Linked DNA regions of Homo sapiens: regions 1, 2 and 3 are each linked to region 4. The links come from fine-mapping of genetic effects on gene expression. A gene starts in region 4. Each other region holds a variant in brackets. All regions are shown on one strand. Distances are from middle to middle.

Region 1 (7,693 bases), 82 kb before region 4:
CAGAGCAAGAACCTGTCTCTAAAACAACAACAACAACAACAACAAGTAATGTGAGAAACAAATGCCCTCCCTCCCTCCCTGAGGGTCACCCCCAGCCTGACCTGATGGATGGGAAAAGATAAGCTCAGAGATGGGGTAAGGATAAGGTGGGAGTTAGGAATGGGGTAGAGGTCAGGGATGGACTGAGAACTAGGAAAGGGAAGGATCAAAGATGGACTGGAGGTCTGGAAGCAGGAAGAGAGAAATGGAGTAAGGGTCAGGGCTGGAGACCAGCAGAACCGAGGTGAAATGTAGGACCATCTGATGGATGGTCACATTAATAACTTTAATTTTTCACCACCAGCTCCCACTACAGCATCCAAACATCCTGCTCTGAAGGAGTGGGAGCAGGGACAGGGAAGAAGAAGAAACCTTAACTGAGTGAACATTTTAAAACAAGCAGGACATTTCGAACTCAAATAGTAAGAGTCACTTTGCTGTCCAAATCCCACCAGTCCTTGGTGTAATACTACAAGTGGGACTTACAAGCAGGACCCGCAAGAAGGTTCTAGTAACTACCTCAGCTTGCAGGACGTAAAATGCCTGGCGAACTTTGCATTCCAAGGACAGGAGTCTTCCAAATTAAAATTTTAATAGTGTGTGAAAATAGTTCGCCATTTACTCTTAGGATGAGGTAGTGTTTAGAAAGTCAGCCTGGAAATCCAGGCCAACATTTTCAGGGATGCCTCCTATTCTGGGAGGAGAAAAACCAGCTTGTTGCTTCCCTCCAGTAGCACAAAGCAGCAGGGAACCGGAAAGAGAGAGGGGTCTGAACAGCTTCTTCTACCAGGAAACCAGCCAAAGGTCTCCGGGCATGTAAGGACATCTGTTTTCAGAAGCTATGGTTTGGATTTTGGCATTCTTAGGAGTCTAGGAGCAATCCTACTAATTTGGGTTCTAGCTCCAACCATACTACCTACCTGCTGTGCGAACCCAGGCAAGTGATTTTACCTCTCTGAGCCTCTGTTTGCTCATCTGGCCCTCTAGACAAGATTAACTTGGCAGTGCCTTGTAGCTCTAATATTCATACTCTCATAAGACTGGATTTGTTCTCACAGGAATGAATTAGTTCCCTGGAGAGTTGGTTGTTAAAACACCAGGGCCCCCTTGGGTTTCCCCATCTTCACACGTGTCTACTTTCCCTTTGACCTTCCCTGCCATGTTGTGATGCAGAAGGAAAGCCCTCGCCAGAGGACAGGGCCATGCCCTTGAACTTCTCAGCCTGCAGAACCATAAGCTAAATAAATCTCTTTTCTTTATAAATGATCCAGTTCCTGGTATTCCATTACAGCAACACAGACAGACACTCCCACATCATCGTCACACAGGGCTTGGGCTGCCTGGCCCTGGCCACTGCCTGCCAACACCAGGCCTGGTCCCTCCATCATCTAGGACCTTGGGGAACATGGCACCGGTGAAGGGCATGGGGGTTACCAGAAAGAGTGAGAAGTCGGCAGGTCAGCACGGCCACACAAGCCACCCTCTCCCAACTTATGTGCAGGCATGATGGCTCCCCATCCACCAGCACTCCTGAGGCCACTACACCAGGGAGGAAAGAAGTGCATGGGGAGGCCTGGTCACACCTGCCCTTCCTTTCAGAACCCTGCATGTGGCTGATGGCAGGTCCTCGGCGCCTGGTGGAAGAGAAAGGGAAGGTGGCACTGGGCTCCACAGGCAGTGATTCTCAGCCCTGCTTGTCACTGGGAGCTGGTTCCTGGGTCCCACCCCAATCTCTTATGATTCCATAGATCAGGAGGAGACCCAAGAACCCAACTTTTCACTTAGCTCTCCAGGGAATACCAATGCAAACGGCCACTGACCACCCCTTGAGCGCCCTGTGGATGAGAGGGTGGAACTAGAGGTTCTAGAAGCAAGTGCTTGAGTCCCCTCACTAGCTGAATGACTCTGGGCAGTTTACATCTCCTTTCAAACCCTCAACTGCCCATCTGAGAAATGGGGATATAAAAGCGTCTGCTTCTTGGGGTTATTTAGAGAAATACATGAGAAAAAGGATGGAAAGCACTTAGCACTGTGCCTGTACATGTTGAGAATCTATAAGAGAAGATCCCCTCTTACTATTCAGGGGTGACTTGTACAAATGCCTTCTTCCATAGCAATCCCTTACTAAACTGGAGCATTTCATAGGGAAGATGCGAATAAGGGCAATGAAGCCTCAGATACAGAGGGCAGCGGAGTGCTGAGACACCTCCGTGCCCTCCCACAACATCCCAGTGCTGTGGTCCAGCAACATACCCGCCCCATCCCTCCAACTCAGAACATGCTCATTGATGTGCCTGAACCCAGGCTAAATGGGAGCACACCTATAGTGGGGGTTCCCCTGTCAGAGATATGCACTGCAAGGGCCTGCGGTCCAGGACACAGAGGAAGGAAGAGACGGGCGGAGAATGTGAATCACATTCATGCCAGGGTGTGTTCTAATACGTCAGCAAATGTGTACCGAGCTTCCGGGCTGCAGAGGAAGGTGGGCGTGTGTGGGGTTAGTGACTTGAAGGGAAAGAGGGGCATGAAAAAGAAGGGGGTGAAGAGTTAGAACTGGTGCAGCAGCTGGGTCTCACACACAAATGGCATGACTCTACTTCACAGGAACTACTCAGAAAGGGAAAAGAATAACTCTAAGAAACAAAGATCTGCCTCCAAATCCAAGAATGGCAGTAGAAAATAGGGTCCCCCACCCAGCAAGCACCCACATCACGTTTCATCAGAAGAACTCTCTATTCTCAGCCAGGCCTGGCACACTGCCTTGACCTTCCCGATCCTGGAGCTGGGCCCTGGGCTCAGAAGACCCCAGACTGTCATTGCTGGAAACAGAATCATTGCAGATATAGTTAGTCAAGATGAAGTCACACTGGAATAGAGTGAGCCCTAATCTTACAGGACTAGTGAGTTAGTCCATTTGTATTACTATAAAGGAATGCCTAAGACTTGGTAATTTGTAAAGAAAAGAGGTATATTTCACAGTTCTGCAGGCTGTAGAGCAACCACGGTGCCGGCATCTGCTTCTGGTGAGGCTTCAGGAAGCTACAATCATGGCGGAAGGTGAAAAGGAGAGCAGGCGTGTCACATGGTGAGAGCAAGACCAAGGCAGCAAGGGTGGGAAGTCCCAGACTTTCAAACAACCAGATCTTGTGTGAACTAACTGGGTGAGACTTCACTCATCACCAAGTGGACGGTGCTAAGCCATTCGTGAGAGATCCACCCTCATGGTCTAATAATCTCCCACCAGGCCTCACCTCCAACATTGGGAATCACATTTCAGCATGAGCTTTGCAGGGGACAAACATTCAAATCATATCAATTAGTGTCCTTATAAAAAAGGGAAGTTTGCCCCATGAAGGAAGAGATTGGGGTGATGTGCCTACAAAGCAAGGAATGCCAAAGATAAGACTGCCAGCCAAGCCCCAGAAGCCAGCAGAGAGGCCTGGAACAGATTCTTCCTCACAGCCCTCAGAAGGAACCAACCTTGCCAACACCTTGATCTTGGACTTTTAGCCTCCAGACTATGATAAAATAAATTTCTGTGAAGTTACCCAGTCTGTGGCACTTACAGCCACCCTAACAAACTAATACACCCAGAACCTTACTATCCTTCACCACACCGATCACCAATGAGGCAAGTCAGAAATTTCCAAAAAGTCTCCACATTTATTTTTCTACCCAATAAACCAGACATGATAGAGGAATTCAAATATAAACAAGACATAGGCCCTGCCTTCCAGAGCTCCTAGGCACACAAATGTTAGTCACTTTACACTTTGCAAAACACTTTCACATATATTGTCTCTTGTAGATCCCCCCATCTCACATTGAGATGGGAAGGGCAAGCTGTAGGTTACTCCCATTCTGCAGATGAGAACACTGAGTTTTGGAGAGTTGGTGGCTTGCTCCAGGGCACCCAGCCCTGGAGCGGCAGAGAGGGAGCTGCAGTAAAGTCTTGAGTCCAAGACAACATTGGTGTGGCTGTTTTCTTTCAGCCTGTCTTGCTGCCTCTCCTGCCGTCTTGGAACCTCTTGCCTCCTTCAAACAGAAGCCCCTGCACTGAGGTCTCTTGTATCTAAGATCTGCCCCAAGTGAGCTCCAGGAGGCAAGGAGGGAGGCCAGCCATGTTAAAGACCAAGTTAAAGACCAAAGTGGCTGCAGCACCATGAGATACCAGTGTAGTCCCCCACCTTCTCTCATAGTCCCTTACCCTGAGGCTGCTCCCACCAGCCCCGCTTACCTTTTTCCCATCCCCACCCCCGGCCCCCAGCCTCTCCCATCCCACAGGCAGGGCAGGTTCCTGGTAACAGCATTGCCCAGTGTTGTCAAAATAGCGAGGAGCTGGAAAGAATTCCAGAATGAAATCTATGTGCCTCTGCAGCCTCCCAACTGACTGCCACTGTGGCAGCTAAACCCGCTAATGTGCTAAGCGTTTTCTGGCAGGGCCAGGAGGCAGGGTTGGTATTTTGGGAGCTGGGAGGGGCTTGGAGGCAACATCCTCGGCAAGTCTGGGAAGGAGGTGGAGGCAGGGAGGCAAAGGGAACCGACCCAGAACACTTCCCATGACGTCACCGAGAGCCACCTGAGCTGCACCTCAGGATTCCTGAAACACTGCTGGCGGAGCGGAGAGTACGGAGAGTACGCTGGGCCCGGTGGGCAGGGCTCAGCAGGGCATGGAGGCTTTGTAGCTAGGCCTGGGGGGAGAGGGCGCTCTAGTATGCCACTTGTCA[T/C]GTACACTTTTTCTGCTGACACAGAGCAGTGTGCAATGCGTCCGGGAGGCTGGGCAGCCCAGGGCTGGCCCAAGCTCTGTTTGCCTGAGTTGGCAGTGGCAGGGCCCATGGTGACCAAACAAAAGACGGGAAGCCAAACGCCCAGAGGCTGGCGGGTGAGGCTCCCTGAGAGGGCTCTGAGGATACAGGCACTGGCGAAGAAGGGCCAGGGGCTCATAGGGATAGGAATGGGGTTGGGGGCAATGGGAACTTGCAGGCAGGGTCCCCTCTGGTTTCCCAGACACACCGCATCGCCTCTGGGCATCAGCCTCTCCACACTGTCCTTGCTTTTCGGGGGCTCCTTCGAAAATGCTTCAAACCATGACACCAGGAAGGGGAGCAAACCACCAAATCTGAGATCCAAACAAGGTCCCAGCATTCCTTTGTCCCTGATGGGCTTGGCTCCAAATTCTGGGAGAAACCAGAGGGTTTTGAGAGAGTCAGGAGAGGGGTTCAGGGGACAAAAAATAGGGCTGGTGAAGAATTCCTTCCGGGAGCCGTCTGGTAGCAGGGAGTACCGTGGGTGGCAAGGCCGTGCTGCTCAGGTGAGGGGACATGGTGTCATTCTGGGAACAGATGAGCCAGTAAAACCCTGACAGGATTCAATCTGGAGGAAAAAAATCCCAGCTGATAGGAACTGCTGAGCGCTTGCAGCTTTTAAAGCCCCTCTAGCAAAAGGATCTGCAAAAGCTTTGCAAACTCTGACCACGCAGCCAGTCAGCCACTTCCCAGCCCACAGCAACGAGAGAGTTTTTGCTACATCAGAACAAACCCACTCACAAATATCTCATCCTGGCCTCCCCCCCGGCACCCATTCCTTTTGGGTCTGTGTGCCTGCCTTCCTCAGAAATGACATTTTGTCAGAGCAGTGAGAGATAGTGTTGCAGGGGCCAAAGGCAGCCAGGGGGCTGGACTGCAACTAGGCTCCCCTGCTCACTAGCGGCTGACCCCAGGCAGGGCACTTAACCTTTATGAATCTCATTTTTTAATCTGCAAAAATGCAAATAATGAAGCTGCTCTTACAGAGTTGGTGAGAGGACTAAATGAGATGATGGATGCTGGGGCTCGAGCACAGAGATGAGGGGCTCCATGACGGCTGGTCCCCCTCCTTCCCACCTTCCTCTCCAGGGCCCTCCGGCACCATAATCAGTGTGGGAAGGATGCAGAACAATGGGAGTTTAATTCAGAGGTTGGCGAGGCAAAGGCATACTTTAATAGAATTCTCTCTCGCCCAGTACATGGTTTCTTGTCCACCCCACCCACCTTTCCCCATCTCTACCGGCTGATAGTCTCTCAGCTAGTAGACCTTTTCTTGTTTAGCAGGGCCACTTTTTTTAAAAACTCCAGACGGGTACCCTCCATGTTGCAGGCGACGTGGCCCTGGATCACTCAACTGACTGTCATTTGAATGGTGCCCCCAGAGTGAGGCAATGGTGCAGCCCTCCTAAGGCCCTTCCTGAGTGTCCCTCCTTCATGAAGATGATTCTGAGGCTTCCCAGGCCTTCACCCTTCTTTGAAAGCCCATAGCAGTTCATATGCACTTCTCTTCTATGCTCACCAAACTCTGCCTTCATCATACTTGGGGGATGTGTGTGAGAGCGAGAGAGAGAGTCCAGCAGGGATTAGATCTGACTTTTATATTCTCTACAGTGCCTGGCACAATGCTAACACATTTGATGAGGCCAGAATTACCCTGATACCAAAACCAGTTAAAGACATTACCAAAAAGAACTTTTTCAATATTTTAATTCTTACCTCATACCCTAGATAAAAATTAACTTGAGCGGGGTGTGGTTGCTGACACCTGTAATCCCAGCACTTTGGGAGGCTGAAGCAGACGGATCTCTTGAGACCAGGAGTTTGAGACCAGCCTGGCCAACAAGGTGAAACCCCGTCTCTACTAAAAATATAAAAATTAGCTGGTCATGATGGCAGGTGCCTGTAAGCCCAGCTACTTGGGAGGCTGAGGAGAACTGCTTAACCGGGAAGGCAGATGTTGCAGTGAGCCGAGATCGCGCCACTGCACTCCAGCCTAGGCGACAGAGCGAGACTCCGTCTCCAAAAAAAAAAAAAAATTAACTCGACATGGATCGTAGAGCTAAATGGAAGACTAAAACTTTCAAACTTCAGAAAGAAAACTTGGAAGAAACTTTTTCTAACCTTGGGTTAAGCAAAAATTTTCTTAAATAGGACATAAAATGCATGAGTCGTAAAGGAAAAAAATTGATACATTGGACTTCACCAACATTTTAAATGTCTACTCTTTGAAAGGCACTAATATGAAAATGAAAACACAAGCTACAGACTGAGAGAAAATATTTGCAAAACATATATCTGATAAAGGATGTTTAGTCAGAATATATAAAGAACTCCTAAAACTCAATAAGAAGACAAATGACTCCATTTCTTTTAAGGTCAAAGAACTGAACAGACATTTCACAAAAGAAAAGATACAGATGGCCAAAAAGCACATCAAAAAAAAAAGGTTCAACATTATTAGTTAGCAGGGAAATGCAATTAAAATCACAATGAGATACCGTTAAACATCTATTATAATGGCTAAAATTTAAAAGGCTGACAATGCCAAGCTCTGGCAAGGATATAGAATAACTACGACTCTTACACACTGCGTGTGGGAATGCTAACTGGTACAGCCACTTTGGAAAGCAGTTTGGCAATTTCTTTTAAAGTTAAATATACAATTATATTTTCATTTCTCCCAGAGATTTGCTCAAAAGAAATAAAAACATATGTCTACACAAAGACCTATAAATAGGAATATTCATAGCAGCTTTCTGCATAATGGCCAAAACTTGGGAACACCCAAGTGCTCATCAGTTGGTAAATGAATAAGCAAGTTGCCATGCAGCCACACAGTGGAACGCACC
Region 2 (7,693 bases), 74 kb before region 4:
AGCATTCTTACACTTACGTTATGTTATCTGGCCTTCTCCATCGTATGAGTCTAATGGTGCAGATATTCTCCACCCCACATTCTCCAACCCTCAGAAAGCTGAGGTACTTTCTTATACAGCAAGTGGGTAGAAGCCAAGATCAGAACCTTACCCCCAACCCACCCCTTGATACCAGAAGAGCCTATTGACTCAGAACAAAACTCAGGCAAACCCCCCACCTAGCTGAGCTTCCCCTCCTTCATCTGCAGGATGGAAAACAGGGTAATACCTGCCCTGCCTATCCTGATACATCAGGCATAAATGGAAAAAAAAAAAAGGAAGTAGTATGTAAAAGCACTTTGGAAATGTTAAAATGCTATGCAAATTATAAGGAACTGTTCTGATTATACTCTCAAGAAATGTCACAAATTTTCTCCAAAAGTGAATAATTGTCATTACTTTTCAACTTCATCCCCTTGAAAAGCCAGTTTCTCCTCCTGTCATCTTTTATTTCTGGTTAAAGCAGAGATGTTATACTCAACATTCCAACTGGAATATCAAGATCAATCTTTAATTCCTCCTTCCAGCTTCACCCTTTCTGAAATCAAGAACAGGCAATTCTCTACTCCACCCACCATCTCATCCTCAGTTTCTCTTGCCATCTGCCCCCCTCTGAAGCTAGAAATCACCAGCAACCATTTTCATTCCTCATCCCTCCGGTCTCTCCTCAGTCAGAGCCAACCTACATGATGCAAAAGCACCACTCCAATCACCTCTCTCAGAGGCTCACAGCCCCGGGGGGACAGCGTCCAGGGGTCCTCCACGGGCTGCCCCAGTGAAGCTCTCCAGCTTGTCTCCCATGACTCACCAACCCAGGTAAGCCTAAATGGCCCTGTTTCCCAAAACTCAACTCTCTTCCCACTTTTATGTCCCCACTATATCTGGAACTCCCTTTCCCACTATTTAATTAGCTATGGGGGTAGGAAGAATCAAACTAGACCCCCAGCTCTTACATCAACCTAAATATATTCCAAGTGAATCAAAGAATTGTGGTTAATGGCTGGGCACGGTGGCTCACACCTGTAATCCCAGCACTTTAAGAGGCCAAGGTGGGTGGATCACCTGAGGTCAGAGGTTCGAGACCAGCCTGGCTGGGTAACATGGCAAAACCCCGTCTCAACTAAAAAATAATAATAATAATACAAAAATTAGCCAGGCATGGTGGCGCAAGCCGGTAGTCCCAGCTACTTAGGAGGCCAAGGCAGGAGAATTGCTTGAACCCACCCAGCAGATGGATGTTTCAGTGAGCCAAGATTGCACCATTGCACTCCAGCCTGGGCAACAGAGCAAGACACCACCTCACAACAAAAACCACACACACACAAAGAATTGAGGTTAAAAAAAATCCAGATTATATAGATGAATATCTATCTGATAGCTGAATGGGGCTGGAATTTCTAGGCTACATAGCAATGGAGTAAATCAGAGGAGAATAAAATGAATAATAGTTAACATTTACCTATTTTCACTTCTTTTAACTGGATATCCATATTTTAAAAGTAAACATACCCTTTACTTCATGTTGTACACAAAAAATAACAAAATGGATCACAGAATGAAAGAAATGCTAAAATTAGAAAAATTCCAGAAGAAGGCCAAGCACGGTGGCCTGTAATCCCAGCACTTTGGGAGGCCAAGGTGGGCAGATCACTTGAGGTCACGGGTTTGAAACCAGCCTGGCCAACATGGTGAAACCCCTATTAAAAATACAAAAATTAGCTGGGCATGGTGGTACACACATGTAATCCCAGCTATTCAAATGGCTGAGGCACAAGAATCCCTTGAACCCAGGAGTCAGAAGTTGCAGTGAGCAGTGATCGAGCCACTGCACTCCAGCTTGGGCAACAGAGCGAGACTCTGCCTCAAAAAAAAAAACAAACTTCCAGAAGAAAACATGGGGAAAATCTTCATAACCTTGGTGTAGGCAAAGATTCTTAGGACACAGAAAATAAGAATCACAAAAGGGAAAAATAACCTGGACTTCAAAATTAAAAATTTCTGCTCTTCAAAAGACATTGTTATGCTGGGTGTGGTGGCTCATACCTGTAATCCCAGCACACTGGGAGACCAAGACGGGAGGATCATTTGAGACCAGGAATTCCAGACCAGCCTGGGAAACACAGAAAGACCCTATCTCTACAAAGAAGTTTATTAACCAGGTGTGGTGGCTCATGCCTGCCGTCCCAGCTACATCGCAGGCTGAGGCGAGAGGACTGCTTGAGCCCACGAGTTCGAGGTTACAGTAAGCTTTGATCATGCCATTGCACTCCAGTGTGGGCAACAAAGACCTTGTCTCTAAAAAGATAAAAATTTAAAAATTAAAAAGACATTGTTTAAGATAGGAGATATGGTTGTACAACAATGGGAGTATAATTCACACCACTAAATACTCAACATGATTCCAATGGCATCTTTTATGTTACGTATATTTTACTACAATTTTTTTAAAAGATGTTGTTAAGAGGATGAATAGACAAGCCACAGATTGGGAGAAATGATTCATAGTACATATATGTACATAGTATAGTCATACAGTATATAGATACATGTATACACAGTACATATATAGCACATACATGTACATACATACATATATGACAAAGGATCTATATCCAGAATATATAAAGAACTCTAGCAATTTAGTAATAAGGCAAACAACACAACAAAAGATTTGAACAGACCCTGCACAAAAGAAGATAGCCAATAAGCACGTGAAAATATGCTCAGCATCATCAGTCATTAGGGAAATGCCCACTAAAACTACAGTAAGCTACCGTTCACACCCATTAAAATGGCTAAAATTCAAAAGACTGGTAATGTCACCTGCTGGTGAGAATATATAGCAACCAAAAGCACAGCCACTGCTGACGGGAATATGCAATGGTGCAACCACTTTAGAAAATAGTATGGTAGCTGCTTATTCTAAAAACATGCATTTACCATATGA[T/C]TGAGAAGTTTCACTACTAAGTATTTATCCAAAAGAAATGGGGGAAAATGGTATGTCAAAAAAGAGACATACACAGATGCTCGTGGCAACTTTATTCATAATAGCCAAAAACTGGAAACAACCCAAATGTCCATCAACTGGTGAATGATTACAATATTTTGGAAAATTCATATGATGAAAAACTCAGCAAAAAAAAAGATGTTACTGCATTGGTATCAGGACTGAAAAAAATAAAAATAAAAATTAGCTGCTAATGTACACAACAATGTGGATAAGACTTTTTTTTTAAAAGGCCGAGTGAAATAAGCTAGATTCAAAAGAGTAGATAGTGGTCAGGCATGGTGGCTCACATCTATAATCCCAGCACTTTGGAAGGCCTGGGGCGAGTGGATTGCTTGAGCCCAGGAGTTCAAGACCAGCCTGGGCAACATGGGAAAACCCCATCTCTACTAAAAATACAAAAATTTAGCCAGGTGTGGTGATATGTACCTGTGGTCCCAGCTACTAGGGAGACTGAGGTGGGAGGATCACTTGAGCCCAGGAGGCAAAGGTTGCAGTGAGCTGAGATTGCACCACTACACTCCAACCTGGGCGACAAAGTGAGAACTTGTCTTATTAAAAAACAAAAGGTAGATAGTGTATGATTGTGTTTACATGAACTCTTAGAATCAGCAAAATTAATCTACAGTTACAGAGAGGGGGTGAGTACAAAGAGGCACTAAGGAACTTTTGGGGATAATAATAATATTCTATTGTGGTTACATGGGTATACACATTTGTTAAAATTCATAGAACTATATATTTTGAATGAGTACATTTTATTGAATGTAAATTATACCATAGTTTTAAAAGAACTTTTTAAAAGTCAAGATGCAAACTGGGGAAAATATTTGCCACATGTATGACAAATTAATATTCTTAATATACAAAATGTCATGCAAATTGATATAAAAAGCATTAAGACCTCAACAGGCAAATGGCCAAAAGACACAGAAAAGCCACAAAAGAGGAAATAAGAATATCTAATAAACAGGTTAAAATTAAAGCAATGAAATACTGTATTTCACAAACCAAATGAGCAAATTTCACCTATCAAATGAGTTTTTTTGTTTTTGTTTTTTGCTTTGATGATAATTTTTGTTTTGTTTTTACTTTAATGATAATACTAGTATTGTAGGACAAGATGAGCACTCTTCTGGTAAAAATATAAATTGATACATTTCTAGAACACAATTTGGAACACTATTATATAAGCTTTAGCAGGAACATTAAAGTTAAGACCCAAAACCTTAACAATTTTCAGATTATTTGACCCACTTCTAGAAACCTGTGCTAAGGAATAAACAAAGATGAATGATCAAAATTAGAGATTTACAGGCAAGAGTTTTCAGCCAGGCACTGTGGTTCACACCTATAATCCCAGCACTTTGGGAGGTCAAGCTGGGAGGATCACTTGAGGTCAGGAGTTCGAGACCAGCCTGGGCAACATGATGAAACTCCATCTCTACAAAAAATTTTAATAATTAGCCCAGGCACAGTGGCTCACTCCTGTAATCCCAGCACTTTGGGAGGCTGAGGCAGGCAGATGACTTGAGACCAGGAGTTCAAGACCAGCCTGGACAACATGATGAAACCCCATCTCTACCAAAAATACAAAAATTAGCCGAGTGTGGTGGCACATATGTTTGTAATCCCAGCTGCTTGGGAGGCTGAGGCATGAAAATCGCTTGAACCTGAGACGCAGAGGTTGCAGTGAGCTGTGATCACGCCACTGTACTCCAGCCTGGGCAACAGAGTGAAACTCTATCTCAAAAAAAAAAAAAAAAAATTAGCGGGCGTGGTGGCATGCACACTACTTGGGAGGCTGAGGTGGGAGGCAGAGCCTGGGAGGCAGAGTCTGCAGTGAGCTGAGGTCACACTACTGCACTCCAGCTTGGGCAACAGAGTAGGACTGTGTCTCAAAACAAGAAAAAACAAGTCTGGCCATGGCGGCTCAGTCCTATAATCCCAGCACTTAACAAGGTAGAGGCAGGAGGATAGCTTAAGCCCAGGAGTCCAAGACCTGCCTGGGCAACATAGCAAGACCCCATTCTCCACCAACAAAAGGGACAAAAAAGAATTTTTATTACTGACCTTGTTTCTAGCAAGAAACAATCTAGGATAAGCCACTAGGTTGAGTAAACGCTGGCATCAATATGATGAACTATCGAATATTGTCCATGGTACAAACTTAATAAATATTTCTCAAATATACTCAACGTATACACTATATAAGAACCTTAGAAAGGAGTGAGATGTGTAGATGACTTACACTTATGGGTAGAGAAACACATAAACAAATTGTTTCATTGCAGCAAATATTGGAAATCATCTAAATGTTCATCAAGAGAGGTGAAATTAGGCCGAGTGTACTTGCTCATGCCTGTAATCCCAGAGCTTTGGGAGACCAAGGCAGGAGGACTGCTTGAGGCCAGGAGTTCAAGACTAGACTGAGTAACATGGCGAGAGCTCATCTCCACTAAATTTTTTTTTTAATTAGCCAGGCACTGTCGTGTGTACCTGTAGTCCTAGCTACTCAGAAGGCTAAAGTCAGAGGATCACTTGAGCCCAGGAGTTCAAGGCTGCAGTAAGCTATGACACGCCACTGCACTCCAGCCTGGGTGACAGAGTGAGATCTTGTATTGAAAAAAAGAGGTGAAATTAAATAAATCATGGTATGTCCACACAATGAAATGCTATGCATCTGTTAAAAACAGGCCAGATCTAATCTATGTCCTAGGCTGGGCGCAGTGGCTTGTAATCCCAGCACTTTGGGAGGCCAAGGTGGGTGGATCACCTGAGATCAGGAGTTCAAGATCAGCCTGGCCAACATGGTGAAACCCCATCTCTACTAAAAAATACAAAAAAATTAGCTGGGCGTGGTAGCACATGCCTGTAATCCCAGCTACTCGGGAGGCTGAGGTGGGAGGATCACTTGAACCTGGAAGCCAGTGGAGGTTGTGGTGAGCCAAGATTGCTCCACTGCATTCCAGCCTGGGCAACAAGAGTGAAACTCCATCTCAAAAAAATAAAATAAAATAATCTATGTCCTAGATTGTTAAAAAATTTTTAAAGGTGCAGAACAGGGCACTTGGAATGCTACTATTTGAAGGGAGAAAAAAATAAAAGGACACATAAATATTTATGTTTATATAACATCACCAGAAAGATACAGAAGAAAAAACAAAACAGGTAAGTCTATACTGAAAGACTAGGGTCTGAGGATGTGAAAACAGGGGTGACAGAGACTTAGATTTACTTTTTGCTCTCAATTACTTTCTGTAGTGTTTAAATTTTTTACCATATACAGGTTTTTCTTTTTCAAAAAAACACCACCAAAAACAAAAACACAGATTTTTTTTTAGAAGGAAGGGGAGTGTTATGGATTGAGTTTCTTAGAAGGAAGGAGAGTATTATGAGTTGAGTTTTTTAGAAGGAAAGAGAGTGTTATACGTTGCATTATATCCCCTTTATATGTTGAAGTCCTAACCCCCCTACAGGTTGAACATCCCAAATTCACAAATCTGAAATGCAAAATCCTCCAAAATCCAAAACTTTTTGAGCATCAACATGACTCATGAAGATCTCACCCAATTTCCCAGAAGCCCTCGCTCCCATCGGACTAGAATCTTCTTTTGAGAGGCCTTTCCTTTTCTCATCCCTATTGCAACCAGTACAAAAAGCAAAACAGAAAGACACTAAAGCAAAACCAAAGTTTTAGTCACAAAAACCAAATGGGTTGGCGAGGGAAGGTGGTGGTTACAGGGAAGGTTTTAAGCTCACCAGGCCCTGTAGCTGAGGTTTCAAAATGGCAGCTAGCTGGACGCCATCTGGTCTAAATCTGCTCACCCAAACCTCCCTCCAGTTCTCCAAGGGATGTCCCTAATTACTAGCACAGCCAGCTGCCAACATGGAATCTAGGTCTCCCTTCTTTCAAATATTAGAGATGTGAGACCAGAAAGATTACTTCCCAATACCAGAGAAAAGGCTACGAGGGAGGAACAAGGGAGAGAAGGAGACCTTCACTGCAGCATGCAAGGACATGGCGGACGCGTCCCATCCCATATCTCAGCTATTATGCATTCCCAACTGGCTTGGCCAACATCCAGAGAGACTCCAGGCTGGTGAGTCTGTGAATGTGAAGTAGAGATAAGCAAGGCGGCGAGGGGGAGCTCGCCCACTGTTATATACGGGCTGCAGCATTGCGTGGCGAGGAGTCAGGGGAATCTTCCATTTCCAAGACATTTCTGCACTCGATCCTGCTCCCCAAGACTAAGAATTCTTTCTTGGCTTCCTCCCACTCCCTGGAATGTAACTAAGCAGTTACCTTGAGAACAAGGAAAAATTGGGGGCTAGGGAGGTGTATGAGTGTTTTAATGTGTTAAAAATCACATTTACCCTGGATACTTGTTTGCAATAAAACAGAGAGTAGGAAACTCCATTCTTACCTTCATCTATGGGACAGGCACCCAGTGGCAATCATTGTGAGAAATAGGGAGAGGCTGATCTATGCTTAGGGAGCTCAGAAAATGCTATGCTTCCTTCCAGCTGTAGGGAAGCTGAGCCACTGGGGAAGAGTGGATGCATTTGGACAAACAGGAATGGATGGAAGGCTTTCTAGGAGAGGGGACCACATGAGCAAAGCCTGAAGAAGGGGTGGTTCTTATC
Region 3 (7,693 bases), 370 kb before region 4:
CCCTGTAATTCCAGCTACTCAGGAGGCTGAGGCAGGAGAATAGCTTGAACCTGAGAGGCGGAGGTTGCAGTGAGCCGAGATGTAGCCACTGCACTCCAGTTTGGGTGACAGATCATGACCCTGTCTCAAAAAAATTGATTATGAAATTTGTATTTCCATCAGCTCCGGTCATCTCTATATCCAGCTGAGTGATGTACATTTTCATGTGGCACCCAAATCATCCTGCAAAAAGGACCCTGAGCCCTCAGGAACCGCAGGGAGCCTGCAGAGCTCCCAGGGTCCTCAGGGCCTTCCCACAGGGGCTCAGCAGCTCCTCCTCAGTGCTGACAGAGGTGACAGAAAGTGACCTCCCATGTGGCATTGATTGAGGGGGCAGGAAATCACCCAGGTGTCATCCATTTGTGTGAGAAGTTGCAGGGGCCCAGGGGGCGTGGGAAGACGCTGACCCAGAAGGTTGCTTCCAGCCAGGGATTCAGCCCAGACGGCCTCCCTCTGTGAACCTGGTTCTCCTGTCTGCCTAGCATGGGGCTGAGGAAGCCTCACTGACTTCGTCTCTGGACATTTGACCCCTTCTGGGCCTTGGAAAAGCCAACACTGGCTTCTTCCTATAGAGCCAGGTTCCCCGCATCTTTCACCTACTGGTCAGACATGGCCTTCCAGGCAGAGAAAGCCTTGTAGGTACTCTCACCAGCAGATGGCCATTTTCACTTGGCAAGCCTCCCGGCCACTTCCTTCTTTTCACAGCAGACCTGAGAGAGTGGACAGAGAGCCCTACAGAACCTAGGGCAGGCCTGGGAGATGGAGGAGACCCATGCCCCAGCTCAAGAGTCAAGGGCCCACCTGAACAATGAGGTAGGGGAACAGCTCCTTTCAAGCCCTTCCTTCCCCACCCTCTCTGGACTCTGGATAAAGAAACACGACTGCTTTCCTCTCACCCAGAAGCCAGAAGGACCTGAGCACCCAGGACTTGTGGCTGTCAGAGAGCTGTGGAAGGGCAGGGGACACCAGATGGCAGCAGCAAGAGCTGGGCGGCAGCATCTGCCCAGGCCACCTGCGGAGAGAAGGCTGGAATCCGAGGGATCACACTGGGCCAGCATTGAGCCTGTGGCCACCACACTGACCCCTCCTCAGCTCCCCCTCACAGGACCTGAAAGCATTTCTGAGTTAAGTCTGCATAGGAAGTTTTCCAGAGCCATGCCACATATCCCTCCATCCACTCAGTGCCCATTTTACAGATGAAGAGAGAGGCACCCAGAAAGGTACACCAAGGCAAGATATGGCGTAGACAGGATGAGGGCAGAGCCAGCTTCCTGATCTGATGGAAGTCATGAAGCCTTCTCTGCCTTACGCTTGGCTCTGCAGGGTCGCTGAGAGGTTCCTTTAAGGAGATCATCAGAATCCTAAATGGCAAAAAATGGCAAATCAGGGGAAGAGTTGGAGCCCAGCATTTGGGGACACACACACACACACACAGTCGTCTTGCCTTGCAGAAATTGGGTTGCATTACTCCAGTCTGCCACTGAGTGGCACCTTTGGGCCATGCACTTGGCTCCAAAGACATTTCTCTGAACAGCAACAGAAAAACATGTTTAACCCTAAAAAAAAAAAAAAAAGAAACAAGTACATCTTACTTTGGATGAAATTTGATGACAGATTGAATGCACTGTCTGCACTTTCCACCACGTCATGTTTCAGCTTCGCTTGTCCCTCCCTTTCTGTTGACTAGACTACCTGTGATTCCCGCTGCTCTCGGAACCAGCACAGGACCTACTCTCTTACTCACTGATGGGGGAGCTGGCCTGTCCATGCACAGGGCAAAGGATATGACACCCAGACCTGGATCCTGCTGCAAGGCTGCCTTGGGAACCATCCTTAAGACCCGGTAGCTGTTGTCCAAGCTTTGGCTCTGGCTGCTGCTGCTCTCAGCAGAAAAGAGCTCACTGCTCCCATGCGGATGCTGAGGGATTAAACAGAGGCAAATACGGAAGTGAGCAGATTTTTCTCTCTTGCTCTCAGCAGAAGGAGAACCATTCTGCAGAGAAGTTTTCAACATATGCCTCTTCAGCATTGCTCCAGATGCGTCCGTCTTCACTCTGAAACCCATATATTGAGCACCTACTATTTGCCAAGCACCGTGCTGAGCACTGATGTGAATTGGCTCAGTTTCTCCATCTATAATAGGAATGGCTGGTTCATTCTTACACAGATAGTCTTTATGATTCCAGGACACTGCCTGCTTCTGGGATCTCTCCTCCATTTTGATGCCATCACTTGATCCCAACTAGATTTGACAAAGGGTCTCACACTGTCTGCATGGTGGCATGTATGTAGCACTGGGGTTCTCAACCAGGAATGAGTTCATCTCCCAGGGGACATTGGGCAATGTTTGGAAACATTTTTAGTTGTCATAACTTGGGAAGGGGGGTTGCTATTGGCATCTAGTGGGTAGAGGCCAAGGTTGCTGCTAAACATCCTACATTTCACAGAATAGCCTCAACAACAAAGAATTATCCAGCCTGAAGTGGCAATAGTGCTGAGGTTGAGAAACCTTCATGTAGAAGGAGAGAAATCCCGTTCTGATAACGAGAAGCACATTGATCTTTTAATATGCAATTCTTTTCTGTTCTGCACCATAGGAACACCTTTGATGTTTTCACAATCTCCATGGTCTTTGCAGCTCATGTAGTGGCATCAGGGCAGGCTGAGAGATGCAGCAGAATGGGTTTCATGGGACATCAGCTCTGGGGCCATCTCAGGCAACATCCCGATGCTGAGCCCCCTGGAACTGACTGTGTTTCTGCTCCCACTTCAGGTTCTGGCTGGCTGTCCAAGATCTTAAGAAACAACCCCTACAGGATGTGGCCAAGAGGGTAGAAGAAATCTGGCAAGAGTTTCTGGCTCCAGGGGCTCCAAGTGCAATCAACCTGGATTCTCACAGCTATGAGATAACCAGTCAAAATGTCAAAGATGGAGGGAGATATACATTTGAAGACGCCCAGGTTTGCTTATCTACTCAAGTGGTTGTCATAAGGTGTTCATTTGTCCCCTTCATTGCCTGACCTATTAACACAAGTTCAAGGCATTGTGGGTAGTTAAAATTTCAGATTTGGTTATTTTTAAGTTCATCAGTGGAAACCATTTCAGATAGGCGCACAGCAAAATCCCAGGATCGTTTTCCTAGATGGGTTATGTATTACATAGAAACCAAAATGTGCAGTTATATGCTTTATTTGTTCCAGGAAAGCCTCAAAGTGTTTTACAAAATCTGAAGGCTTGTAATAAGTCAGTGATAGAATCTGGAAACCAGAACACAGCATTGGGGAAGTGGGTGTAGTGAGTTAGCAGGGCCATGAGTCAAACCCACATCTGTCTACCTCTGAAGCCCACACTGATAACCACCTCTCTACACTGCTTCCGCAGTGATCTCCAGCTCTGCAGTGAATATTTTTTAAGCACATCTATATTCCAGGCTCTGCGCTATGTGATAAGATACCACAAAGAACAGGCAAAACCCCTGTTCTCACCGAGGTTGAGTGGGAGACAGACAAGTAAATGGGCAACTTCAACAGTGTGAAAAGTGCCCCAAATGGGTGAACCCTAGGTTAAAGCAAGCCTGCAGGAGGGACTCCCAACCCTGTAGGACACAATTAAGATGCTCACAGATGCTAGTGATGCTGGCTAAAGAAACAGGAACCACCCTAACCAGCAGACTAAATTTTGACGGCTGGGAGGTGCCATTTCTAAAAATAAGCATTGGGTTGGT[T/G]TCTTACTTCCTGGCCCCTAATTTCTATTTCCTGTCACCATCCCACACCCAGTGACAGGGCTTAAGATTTTGCTTATCTCCTTGACCCCACTTACTTCTCTCACCTCTGGGGCCCCCAGTAGAGAATTTGGGTGGTTTGCCCCTTGCAGACATTATTATCTGATTTAGGAAACTCAGTGTAGCTGCACCAATGCAAATAATGGCATGAGAACAGTGTCCCTTATCATCCAGAATTACCTTGTCATTTGCTCAGAACTTCAAGATGGAAACACCTACCAACCTCAACACCATAACTATCTACTTCTCTCCCCCTGGTCACGAGCTCCATCAAATGCCTGTGCCAATCACGAAATCATGACTCCTTCATATACCCCTTGCAGCTTCAAAGCAGAATGTTTGAGTCATGAGAGCTCTTTGCTGAGATATTTTTGCTTATGTGTATGTACGTATGCTTTCAAGCACCATATTGACATGGCCAGAGAGGAGAGTGACAGGGGAGTTCCGTGGGGGTTCCCTGCATGAACAAGCTGAAGCTCAAACTCCAATATTTATGAAACACAAGAAGAGGGATACTGGTCAAAACCTTGATGCATCTAGCACAGTATTAACACTCCAAGCATGACATCAGGAGGGATTTATTTTAATTTTTTATTATGAAAACTTTTAACACTTGGAAAAGTGGAAACAGCAAAACAGCAAACATTTATAGACCCTCATCCAGCCTCAAAAATCATCAGTACACGTCTGATCTTGCTTTATCTCTAGCCCCATCTACTTTTTCACCTGCCACCAGGTTACTTTACAACAAATCCAAGATGTTGCATCATTTCATCTGTAAACTTAGATATGTATCTCTAAAAAAAAGATCCTTTTGTTTTAATATTGCCACAATATCCTTTATCTCCCTCCCTTCCTCACATCCCCTTGCAATTTATTTGATGAAGGATTTAGATCCTTTGTCCTGTAAAGAGTTCCAAGCTCTGGATTTTTCTGATTGCAGCCCTGTGGTGCTATTTAGCATGTTCTTCTATCATCTCTCTTTCCTATAAATTCGTTTTATAAGATATTTAATCAGATTTAGGTTTGATTTTTATGGACAAAACCACTTCATGGATTGTGTGGTGCTCTCCTATCAGAAGGCACATGTCTAGCCACCTCTCTTTTTGACCTTTTTGCAGATATTGATGTCTATCGCTTATATCCATTAGTTAATTAGAGGTTACAAAACAACAACGTACTAATTTTATTCTTTCTTCACTTATTAGCTGGAATACTTTCATAAAGAGAAACTTCCCTCCACCACTATGGTATTAACTAGCAGTACAATTCACATAAGAAAAGCAGGATAAATATTTGATTCTCTCCCTTCATTTGCCAGTTTTCAAAATGAGTGGTTTGCTATTATCTTCCTATGGTAAACATTAGGGTCTATTTTGGTTTTACTATCTTTGTAAACTCATGAGTTTAAACATATATGCTATGTTTTAATCCATTTTGCTGATTACTTTTATTGATGCTTGGATTGGGCCATCTCTGGCCAGTTGGCTCTTTCTGACACAGCCCTAAGAGTGATCTTTGACATCATCCAAATAGCAGGGAAGCTAAGATATTCCAGTCTTTGCCCTTACCCAGAATAAGCTGTTTCTCCAAGGATCCCTGATTCCTCTTAGTGAGAAATGGTATTTAGAGACTAAAATCTAGGCACTTAGAGTGTTTCATTGTTCCTGGATTGTTTATCATTTCCAGCCCTTTTCAGTCGACAGAGCTAGGAAATGTGTTGCTGTTTATAATAAAAATACATCCTGAGTTCATACTGATACTTTTAATTCAAATTCTGACCTACAGGGGATTTTATTTAACCGCTTGTTTCTTACACCTGTGCCTCTTTTCTCTATGCTGACAATCCTGACTTTCAAGGGCACTGGATGATAGCATAATTACTCATTTGCTTTATACTACACAGAGCAGTCTCTAAACCACAATGCTAAAAATACAGCAACAGTATGATTATCGCCTGGTTCTTTAATTGTTGCATAGTATTCCGTTGTGTGGAGGCACCATAGTTTAGTCAACCAGTCCTCTCTTCTTGGACATTTATGTTGTCTCTACTTCAAGAAAGTTTTGATGGAAGAAGTGGGGAAGTCAGCCTAACGAAGGTTACATATTGACAAGTATCTCAATATCCAACCTACAGTGCTCTACCATTTTCCAAGTACTTCTAAATACATTCTATCTAATTTCTACAGCAATCTAGACTAGACATGAGGATGTCTTAAGCATCCCCATCTTCTTCATTATCTGCTAGGATTAGTCTCCCATGAATTCAAATAAAACACTCTTCCTAAGCCAATCCCTATTTTCAGACCAATTTCCTATTGCTTCTGAAGTGTATTTCCACCATAAATATACAAAGTGTTCCTTTCTAGCAGAGTGACCTTGGACAAGTTGCTTAAATTCCCTGAGTCTTCCTTTCCTCATCTGTAGAACAGGGATACAATGGAGCCTACACATAGGGGTGGAATGGGGACCAGGTGAAAGGAAGCATGTCAACCACTAACGATGTCTGGCCCACAATAAGACAGAGTAAATACTACCATCTTATTTTTCTAATGTCACTAATATTCTCTTTTTAAGCCGTAGTGTTTAATGTATTTGGTAAAAATTTTTAAATAATTTCACATAACCTTAGCACCCAGAGATAACCCCTATTTTGGTGTATTTTCTTCCTTGATTTATGTGTGTAGCTACGTGTAAGGTCTGCTCAGGCTGCTACCACAAAATAGCACACACTGGGTGGCTTAAACTACAGAAATTTATCACAGTTCTCGAGACTGACAAATCCAAAATTAAGGTGTCAGCAGATTTGGTTGCTGGTGAGGGCTCACTTCCTGGCTTGCAGGTGGCCGCCTTCTTGCTGTGTCCTTATAACTCTGGTCTCTCTTCCTCTTCTTATAAGAACACTAATCCCGTCATAAGGGCCTCTCTCATGACCTCATTTGAACCTAATTACCTCTCAAAAGACCCACCTCCAAGTACCACCACACTGAGGATCAGGGCTTCAACAATATGAAATTTAGGGAGACACAACATTCATTCCACAACAGGGCGATTTTGCAAATAGCGTGATCCTGTAACCTGCCTTTTACCTAAAACAGGGGTCAGTTAAAAAACTATACTTTTCCTAAAAAGAGCCAGATAGTAGACATTGCAGGCTTTGTGAGTCATGTGGTCTATGTCACAACTATTCGATTCTGCATACAAAAGCAGCTACAATGCAACAACATAGCAATGTAAACAACATAAATGAGGACCTATGGCTGTGTTTATTTATGAACAGTGAAATCCAATTTCATATAATTTTTCACAAAATACAATTCTTCTTTTAGTTTTTTTCAGCCACTTAAAAACATAAAAACTGTTCTTCGCTCATGGGATGTAAAGATCTAGATCACAGGTCTGTATCTGTAGATTTGAATCACAGACTGTAGTTTGTGACCCTGTGCTAAATAAAATCTAGCACATGGTCATGAAAATTATTGAAATGCTTCAAGAAATCCAGAAAGCTACAGGATAGAGGATTGGGCATAAAGGATCTTCAGTTTTTGGGGGAGAGTAAGTTAGAGGAGACTTGGTTTTGACGCAGCCATGGCAACACAGCAATCTGAATTGTGAATGTTTCTACATGAGGATTGAGTGTTGCGGAGCAGAGGTCAGCAGGTGCCAAGAGACTCACACTGCCTTACCTTCCTGGACAGCACTGGCTGCCTGCCCCAGCAAAGTAGGTGCAGTTCAGAAGTTCCCAGGTATAAAAAGGAGGTTAAAATCCTCAGCAGCCCATGACCAGCCAGGACTTGCACTCAGATGTCCTCGCTTGCTGGCCAAGATTCTGCTCAGACCACACTGTCCCTGGATTGTTAGTGCTGAGGGCTT
Region 4 (7,693 bases):
TCCTGCTGCTGCACTCCAGCCTGGGCAACAGAGCAACACCCTGTCTCAAAAAATAATGATAATAATAATAATAATAATAGCATTATGTTTCCCAGGTATGCACAAATCAACCAGAACGTGACTAATCTACATGCAGGCCTTTATCAAATCCATATTTATGTTACCTGCATGTGTTTACTTCACTACCTGGGCCTTATCTCGCTTGTATATGTAAGAAATGAGGGTAACTCTCATACATCTTTGCTCAGACAATGTAGCTGCTAAATTAAATAATATGTAATACACATTTACACATCATACATGTCCACCAGTGCTTTTGAATTCTATTTGTCCAGATGTGACTGCTTGGTTGTGGGGGCCACCTGCCGTGTCCCCTTTGTGATCTGATCAGTGCAGGCGGCTCCTATTTCTGCCTCTAACACCCTGTTGGGCAGTAATAAGATGTTAAAGGCGACAACAGAGAGAGAAGCTGGGCTGTCAGCTTCAGAGAGGAAGGGGGTGAAGGGTACAACAAGGAAGAAAAAGAAAGGGAGTTGAGGGGAGATCAAAGACAGGCAGGAAGAAAGCCAAATTGCTAAGAGAGGAGATGTGGCTTCAGGAGCTTGGGACCCTAAGGAAAACCCCAAAGCAATGAGATTCAAAATTGTGCCATCCCATCACCCCAGCTAATTGAATTATTGAATGTCCCACGTGGAAAAAGCTAGTACAGTGAAAAATAGCCCATACTCAGCGTAGGCAGAGCCCTGCATAGGTGCTGCTGGAAATCTGAGCTTGTTTCTTCCCAACACATTAACTACCACCACTTTATCCCCCCATCCTGAGGAAACCTTTGTGTGACCATTTTCTGTAGGAGACGTCCGTGGTGTTGGCTTTTTTTTTTTTGGAGGGAAGAGAGAGACTCAGAACGCACACAGAGAAAATGCTAATGTCGTTCAGCTCTGTTTCATTGTCAGGAGGGACACATGAGGATAAAAACATAGCTCTCCAAACCATTCTCCCCGCTACCCCTCCTCCCTGCACCACCACCATCCCTTCGGCTGGATGTGTCTCTGCACTTTGTTCTAATTTATCCCATGCATAATTTATTCACGTGTGTATTGTTTCCTGATCAGCAACTTTTAAAAACAAATGAAATATATAAGATGTTTTATTAAACAAGTTATTTTTAAAAAAATAAAGGCAGATGGTGTCCCTCTCCCAATAACAACGTGTGTGCTCCTGCGTTAGGAGTTGTCAAAAACTGTCCAGGGTGTGAGAGGCTGGGCTGGTCAGTGGTATTGTTTATACCCCTTTACTCACAGGGAAAGGGTCTGGGAAGCAGAAAGGAATAGCTAATTATAAATGACCAAGCAACTCCCACCTAGAAAAAGCAAGCAGGGGCGTTGTGTGTATGCTAGTGTCTGCATGTGGGTGGCAACACAATTACAAATACATCACGTTGCAACTGTTTCTAATTATACAAAGTACAATTCAGAACTAATTCCACTAACCGGCCAGAATTCCGCCACCTTCTTTCCCGCGTCTGTCCCTTCCCCCACCCTTAACCCCACCCTACACAGACTCCCTCCCCAAACACGCACCCTACTGTGATCCAAAAAACCCTGGAGCGAGTAGGGGAACACAAGCTTAGAGATACTGCGCCCGCCCGCGCGAAAGCGGGCTCCCGGGTAACTAGGGTACGGCTTTCCCAGGAGGAAACAAACCTGGTGCACATGTGAAATAGGTTCTCTAACTTGAGTTTACCAGGTGGCATCAGCCCGGTTATGTGATTTCGGCTGGAAATGGGGAAACTGAAAATCAGTTGTGGGTTCGGTAGAAACAGCATCAGCGGTGTTGCAGCGAAAGCAACCGGCAGCGAGGATGCGGCGAAGTTACGCCCATTTATTCTGCCATAAAACATTTTCTTTCTTGGGTGAAACGCTGTGGCGTTCAAGCGCAGTGTATCCGAGCTTCCGAGCCAGAACTGAAGCCAGGAGCTCCTATCTGATCAGCCTCAGCTTCCAACGTCCTCTTAACGGCAGCTTTCATATAAATATATTTGAAACCTGGGGCCTTCCTACCCCTTTCCCTATTTCTGATGGGCGACGAGCTGGCGCAAACACGTCCGATTCTCCCTGTGCATTCCTTTGCGTTAGGAACCCCCTACCGTCCCCGGGAGCGAACCTGGTTTTCAACTCCAGGAGTGGCCAGGGGTGAAGACGAGAATGCGCTGAATTAAAAGAACCAGGGTCGACAGCGGCCACGCACCAGGGAGAATTCGGCATGAACCGCCCCCCACCCGACCTGCACCTCCCTCTGCCACTTCGCCTGCGGCTTCGTCCGGGCGGGGAAGTCCCGGTCGAAGGGGTGAGGACCCCCCAGCCCACCTCGGATACGGAGGGAGCCACCCTCTGCCGACATCACCCAATAGCACCCCTTTCAGAGCGACACTAGTTTTCCGAGGCCACCCCTGGCTCCGCGATCGCGAGCGGACTTGGCGGCTTAACAGTTCCACTGACTGGAAGGAAGGAAGGAAGGAAGGAAGGAAGGAAGGAAGGAAGGAAGGAAGGAAGGAAGGAAGGAAGGAAGGAAGGAAGGAAGGATGAAAAGGAGGAGGAAGGCAGGCAGGCAGAAATTGGCTGTTGGACCCGGGGCTGGCCCCCGCGAGTCCTCGCCCGGCCCGCCCCACTCTGTCCAGGATCTGGGCAAGCGCTCAAAGTCTCCCCGAGGCGGCCAGAGGCACCTGCCCCTCGCCCGGCCGGGAGCAGACGCTGCCCCCTCGGGCCAGGAGCCCCAAAACCGCCTCTCCGCCTGCCTCAGCGCCTCACCCAGAGGTGGCGAGAACACCATTCATAAGACCTGCGGCTTCCCTGCCTCCAAATCCACCCCAAGTTAACCCGAGTCGTTAATCCACTAAAGCCAGCTCGCTCGCAAATACACGAGCAGACACACGCTCGATCGCCCGGAGCGCCTCCGAGATCCGGGGGCTGCCGGGGAAAGCCCGGGGCGACCACCTGGGCCCCAGCACGCCCGGGACCCGCTGCTTCCCCCGCGGTGCTCCAACTCCGGAAGGTTTGCACAAACTCCCCGCGAGCGATCGGAAGGCGAAGAGCGCCCTGCAAACTCCGGAGCCTCCGCGGTCCGTCCGCTGGACCCAGCGGACCCAGCGGCGGGGCGGGGGCCGCGGGCTCGGGGGCGCGGGGCTCGGCCAAGTACACCGAGGCGGCCACTGCCCGACGCTCGCCCCCCGCCCAGCAGCCCCCGAAGCCGCGCTCCCTGCCCGCGAGGCGGGGGACTCCGGGGACCGCGCCGTCCCCGAGCTCCCGCGACCCTCCTGCTGTAGAGCGCTCGAGCGCCGGGCTTCTCCGCCTGCAACCCCTATATCTGGCTCTCTCTGCAATTTAGCAGAACACAAATGTAACAATTTTCTTCTTGTTAATTGCATCTCCTGACATTTCTGCGCGTTGGGGGAAAAAAAGAAGATGAAGAAGTAAGAGCTGAAAGAAGAGAGAAGCCCCGCCGCGGCTGGAGGCGCCTGCAAGCGCAATGCTCTGGCAGCGCTCGCCACGCAGAAGGCGCCTTTTTTTTCATATTGAAACCACGCGGAATATGTACATTTTTTAGTCTTACTTACGCTTTCAGGGGGTTGTGAATGACAGTCGCCATTTTGCTACAATGTAACAGAATATTGTCTCAGAGTTCTAAAGGTTCGCTCAGGGGAAGCGACGGGCCAATCACAGCGCGGGATACCGGCCCGCCGGCCAATCGGCGCTGCTGGTAGCTAGGTGGGCGGGGCCTGCGCCGTGGTAGTTATTAGGAGAGCTGTCAAAGCCCAGAGGTCACTCCCTTTTGTAGAGCCCGAGAGCCAGCAGGTCTTAAAGGGGCAGTACAGCGCTGGTAGCTCCTTTTCGGGCTGGGGAAAGTGGAGACGCACGGGAGAGTATTATAGTTTGGTTTAACTCCCTACTTTTCTAAATAACTGCAGAAGAGTTTGCGCTCCCGGACAGAAATATTTAAATATTGCCAGCAAGCCACTGAATCCTATTCATTAGCCTTTGGCTTTGCGTATCAACATTTTTAATCCCCCAAAGGGTAAATCCCCGTGTTTCAGTGCAAAAGTTGGAAGGCTGCCGTTTCGTGTTAACAAATTACTACATGTGCTCTGCCGTTTGCTAATGCTCTGGGTCCTGCCGCTTTTTAATATTCTTATTCCCGAAGTGTTCTCTTTATCTCGGCCACCTTCCTCTCTCGCTTCTTGGAACTGTCGCTGCTGTTCCTGGCGACTCCAGGACAGCAACTCACCCTCCCCCTGGAACGTCTCAATGTCAGGCTCGCTCCCTCCTGCAGCCAGGGCTTTCCTTACGTAGTGCAGGGGGGTTACTCTGCGCGGTTCCCCGCTACCACCCCTTCGGTTCTTCCCTCTACACCAGAAACTTCCAAAATGCTCAGATTCCTGCTAGGTGGTGGGACCTGGAGCTCTGATCTTTAGGCTTAGGGGTAGGGAGGACTTAAGGCAACCTTTGGAAACTTTCTACTGCTAGGAAGCAAGTGACTAGGCAGAAGTTGTAGAGCCTGGACTGGGTGTTATCAGGGTCCCTTTAGAGGAGTGGCACACGCGATTCTGGCGTCACCTTTCACTACTTAGATAGAAGGTGGAAAGAATTTGCTAATGAATAATCCGATGTGACCCGAGGCGTCCAATGAGTCTGTGTCTGCTTCAAGTCAGTGTGAACTCTTCACTGGCGAGCCCCTGACAAAATTGGGAGACTTCTGCGAAGTCAGGCTTCCACTGGGCACCGGGAAGCTCTGGGGGGATGAAATCGCATTAAATCGCGAATAGGGTAGGGGCCTCGTTAGCATACAGAAGTCTGGCTACCATTCCAAAGCTGTTTAATCAGATCAAATAGCTAAGATAGTGGGGGAGGGGTGGCAAGGGGAGAGAAGTTGCCAAATTGCCAGTTCTTCAAAGCTATGCCCTCTCGCTTCCTTTTGCTCCTCTCAAGACAATGAATAAAATAAAATAAACATTCCAGAATTTTAAGAGTTCAACTACATACACTATTAGATTTACAGATAAACAGAACGTGGCTGAATCACTATGTTTTTAAAAGATTTGAAATCTTTAACTCCTCTCTGCGTATTTAAGAAGCAGAATTGAGTTCTATAGATTCCTTTGTAAATCCTTTGCATAGCATCTTGGCAGAGATTACAGTTTGAAAAAGTTATCTCCTTTTCCAAAATTGAAGTTTGAAAAATCCCTTCTTTACTAATTTGACAAGAAATTGGTTCAGAAGCCTATACTTTGCCTGAGGTGGGCCTTGACATCATTGAAAAGCAAGAACTGTATTCTGACCCAAGAAGTATGAGTTTGAATTATCAGTTAGAACTCCCAATAACCTCTTTGAGGTATCAAAGACACAACAATTCAGATTAGTAGACGACAACGTATTTTCTTACATGCAGCCTGATAAAGGAGGAAATGTAGAGCATGTCCTGAACAAGATTTACAATGGGGGAAGAGAGAAAAAACAAATGTATATTACATATTAAAGAAAACACATACTCTAAGCATGTACATATCATTTATTGTGTTAAGGCCTGGATGCAGAAACCAGCATAATCTCTAACTACCTAACGAACTTGAAAATGTCAGATCAGATTTATTGATTGGATTGGAAAATAGTGAATTAAAGACAGTACTTTAAAAAAAAAAAAAGGATAGCCTTGCTTTTTGTAACCCAATGGAATGTCATTTTAACTCTATCAATACAGTTATGACTTTTAAAGAAACACTTATATTTAACAAAAGAGTTATTTTACTTTAATGTTTACATTATAGATCAAAATATAAAGATTTCTTTTTTTTTTTTTTTTTAACCAGAAGGTTCAAAAGCAAAGAGTAGGCATGTTTAAAGAGGACAGTATCCTTAAACAGTTTTGGAGAAGTTTGGCAGTTCTGGGGCAATTTCATAGTGCTGTACATGGCAGAAGTATGAGCTCTGGAATCTACCAGCCTGAGTCCACTATTTACCAGCTGGGTTACCTTGGGCATATTTACTTGCCAGGATTAAATGAGGTAATACATGTCAAGTGTCTGACACACAGCAAGCTTTCAATCCATGTTATTATTTCTTACAGAGATAATTAATTCTTTCCTTACGGCATATGGAATGTAGGGAATCCAAAAAACAAGGCACAACAGAAAGTGAAATTAGCCATCACATTTAGTTTTCTAAACTCATTAATCCAAGAAAAATGAGCAAATGGACAACTTGGATTAGAATAAAATAATAAATAAGAATGATGTTTCAATGAGGGGTCACATAACTATATAACCCTAAAAAAGGCTTCTTGCTGATTGTGATACCAAAACACTTTTTAAATTTTTTTTTTTTTTCTGAGACGGAGTTTCACTCTTGTTGCCCAGGCTGGAGTGCAGTGGTGTGATCTCAGCTCACTGCAACCTCCACCTCCCGGGTTCAAGCGATTCTCCTGCCTCAGCCTCCCGAGTAGCTGGGATTACAGGTGCCCACCACCACGTCCAGCTAATTTTTTGTATTTTTAGTAGAGACAGGGTTTCACCACGTTGGCCAGGCTGGCCAGGCTGGTCTCGAACTTCTGAATTCAGGTGATCCACCCATCTCAGCCTCCCAAAGCCCTGGAGTTTTTTGTCGTTGTTGTTATTGTTTTCAGACAGGGTCTTGCTCTGTTGCTCAGGCTGGAGTGCAGTGGTGCAAACACAGCTCAACATAACTCACTGCAGCCTCAAACTCTTGGGGTCAAGTGATCCTCCCACTTCAACCTCCCAAGTAGCTGAGACCACAGGACAAACCACCATACTCAGTTCATTTTTTAATTTTTTGTAGAGACCAGGTAACACTATGTTGCCCAGACTGATCTCAAACTCCTGGACTCATATGATCCTCCCACCTCAGCCTCCAAAAGTTCTGGGATCACAGGCATGAACTACCGCACCCATAGCCTAAAATCCCATTTCTAAAGCTCCATAGCTATTCATATATTTGAATACACTTCATTGTATTCTATCCCTTTTATCTTGATTTAGCTAGTTAGGCAGCTTAATTTGGAGAGCAGAGTGGCCCCAGAATAATCACCTCCACATCTCACCTGGAGAATGTTGAGCTTCACTGTCCAATATAGGAGCCATGGGCCACAGGTGACTACTGAGCACTTGAAATGTGGCTACTCCCAATTGAGATGCGCTGTAAGTATAAAACAATGCACCTGATTTCAAAGACTTAGGACAAATAGAAGGTAAAATATCTCATTATAATTTTTACATTGATCATTTGTTGAAATGATATTTTGGATTTACTGGATTAAAGAAAATATGTTATGAAGACTAATTTCACCTATTTCTTTTTACTTTTTTTTAATGTGGCCACTAGGAAATTTTAAATTGTACATGTGGATGGCATTGTATTTTTATTGTACAGTGTTGCACTGTACAATAAAATGAAGAGATCTGCCTTTTTGCACTGTACAATAAAAACATATAAGAAGTGTGTGTCACCAGGGAAAGAAGTGTGGGGACCATTCTCAACCATATTAACTCACCCTTGATGTCAGTGAGTGAAACTCCCTGGCCCAGCTCAAGTATTTGTTGAATGCCATCCGTTTGAAGGAACACTGGGCACAACCAAGGACCCAAGAACCTAAGCCAAAAGGACATCCATCTCTCTTTTTCTTAATT

Alleles and levels. Alleles are on the strand shown, and positions count from the first base shown. SD is a standard deviation of normalised expression in the study named. Not every link is listed here.
For the expression in tibial artery of the gene that starts at base 3,658 in region 4, T is the low allele of the variant in region 1 and C is the other (moderate effect, 0.43 SD a copy in GTEx).
In carriers of allele C in region 2, the expression in testis of the gene that starts at base 3,658 in region 4 tends to be lower than with T alone (small effect, 0.23 SD a copy in GTEx).

What was found.
Region 1: its variant is fine-mapped to the expression of DPF3 in tibial artery (GTEx, PIP above 0.99).
Region 2: its variant is fine-mapped to the expression of DPF3 in testis (GTEx, PIP above 0.99).
Region 3: its variant is fine-mapped to the expression of DPF3 in whole blood (TOPMed, PIP 0.99).

What each region holds. Positions count from the first base shown.
Region 1 is chr14:72,807,946-72,815,638 of GRCh38, forward strand. All of the region lies in intron 1 of DPF3 (double PHD fingers 3), which reads right to left. Among named protein-coding and RNA genes, the nearest start is that of DPF3, 82 kb to the right of the region's middle. RefSeq lists an enhancer at 1,869-3,068. The variant T/C (reference allele first, on the strand shown) is at 4,767.
Region 2 is chr14:72,816,338-72,824,030 of GRCh38, forward strand. All of the region lies in intron 1 of DPF3 (double PHD fingers 3), which reads right to left. Among named protein-coding and RNA genes, the nearest start is that of DPF3, 74 kb to the right of the region's middle. The variant T/C (reference allele first, on the strand shown) is at 2,987.
Region 3 is chr14:72,515,539-72,523,231 of GRCh38, forward strand. RGS6 (regulator of G protein signaling 6) reads left to right here. Exons shown (of 18, transcript NM_001204424.2): 15 at 2,813-2,999. MIR7843 (microRNA 7843) reads left to right here and starts at 1,282; the gene lies at 1,282-1,360. RefSeq lists enhancers at 3,411-3,480, 3,951-4,100, 4,191-4,280. The variant T/G (reference allele first, on the strand shown) is at 3,764.
Region 4 is chr14:72,890,444-72,898,136 of GRCh38, forward strand. DPF3 (double PHD fingers 3) reads right to left here and starts at 3,658. Exons shown (of 11, transcript NM_001280542.3): 1 at 3,614-3,658. The coding sequence starts at 3,645. It overlaps LOC107984711 (a long non-coding RNA gene), which reads right to left. Exons shown (of 3, transcript XR_001750998.1): 3 at 6,928-7,202. RefSeq lists an enhancer at 3,618-3,912.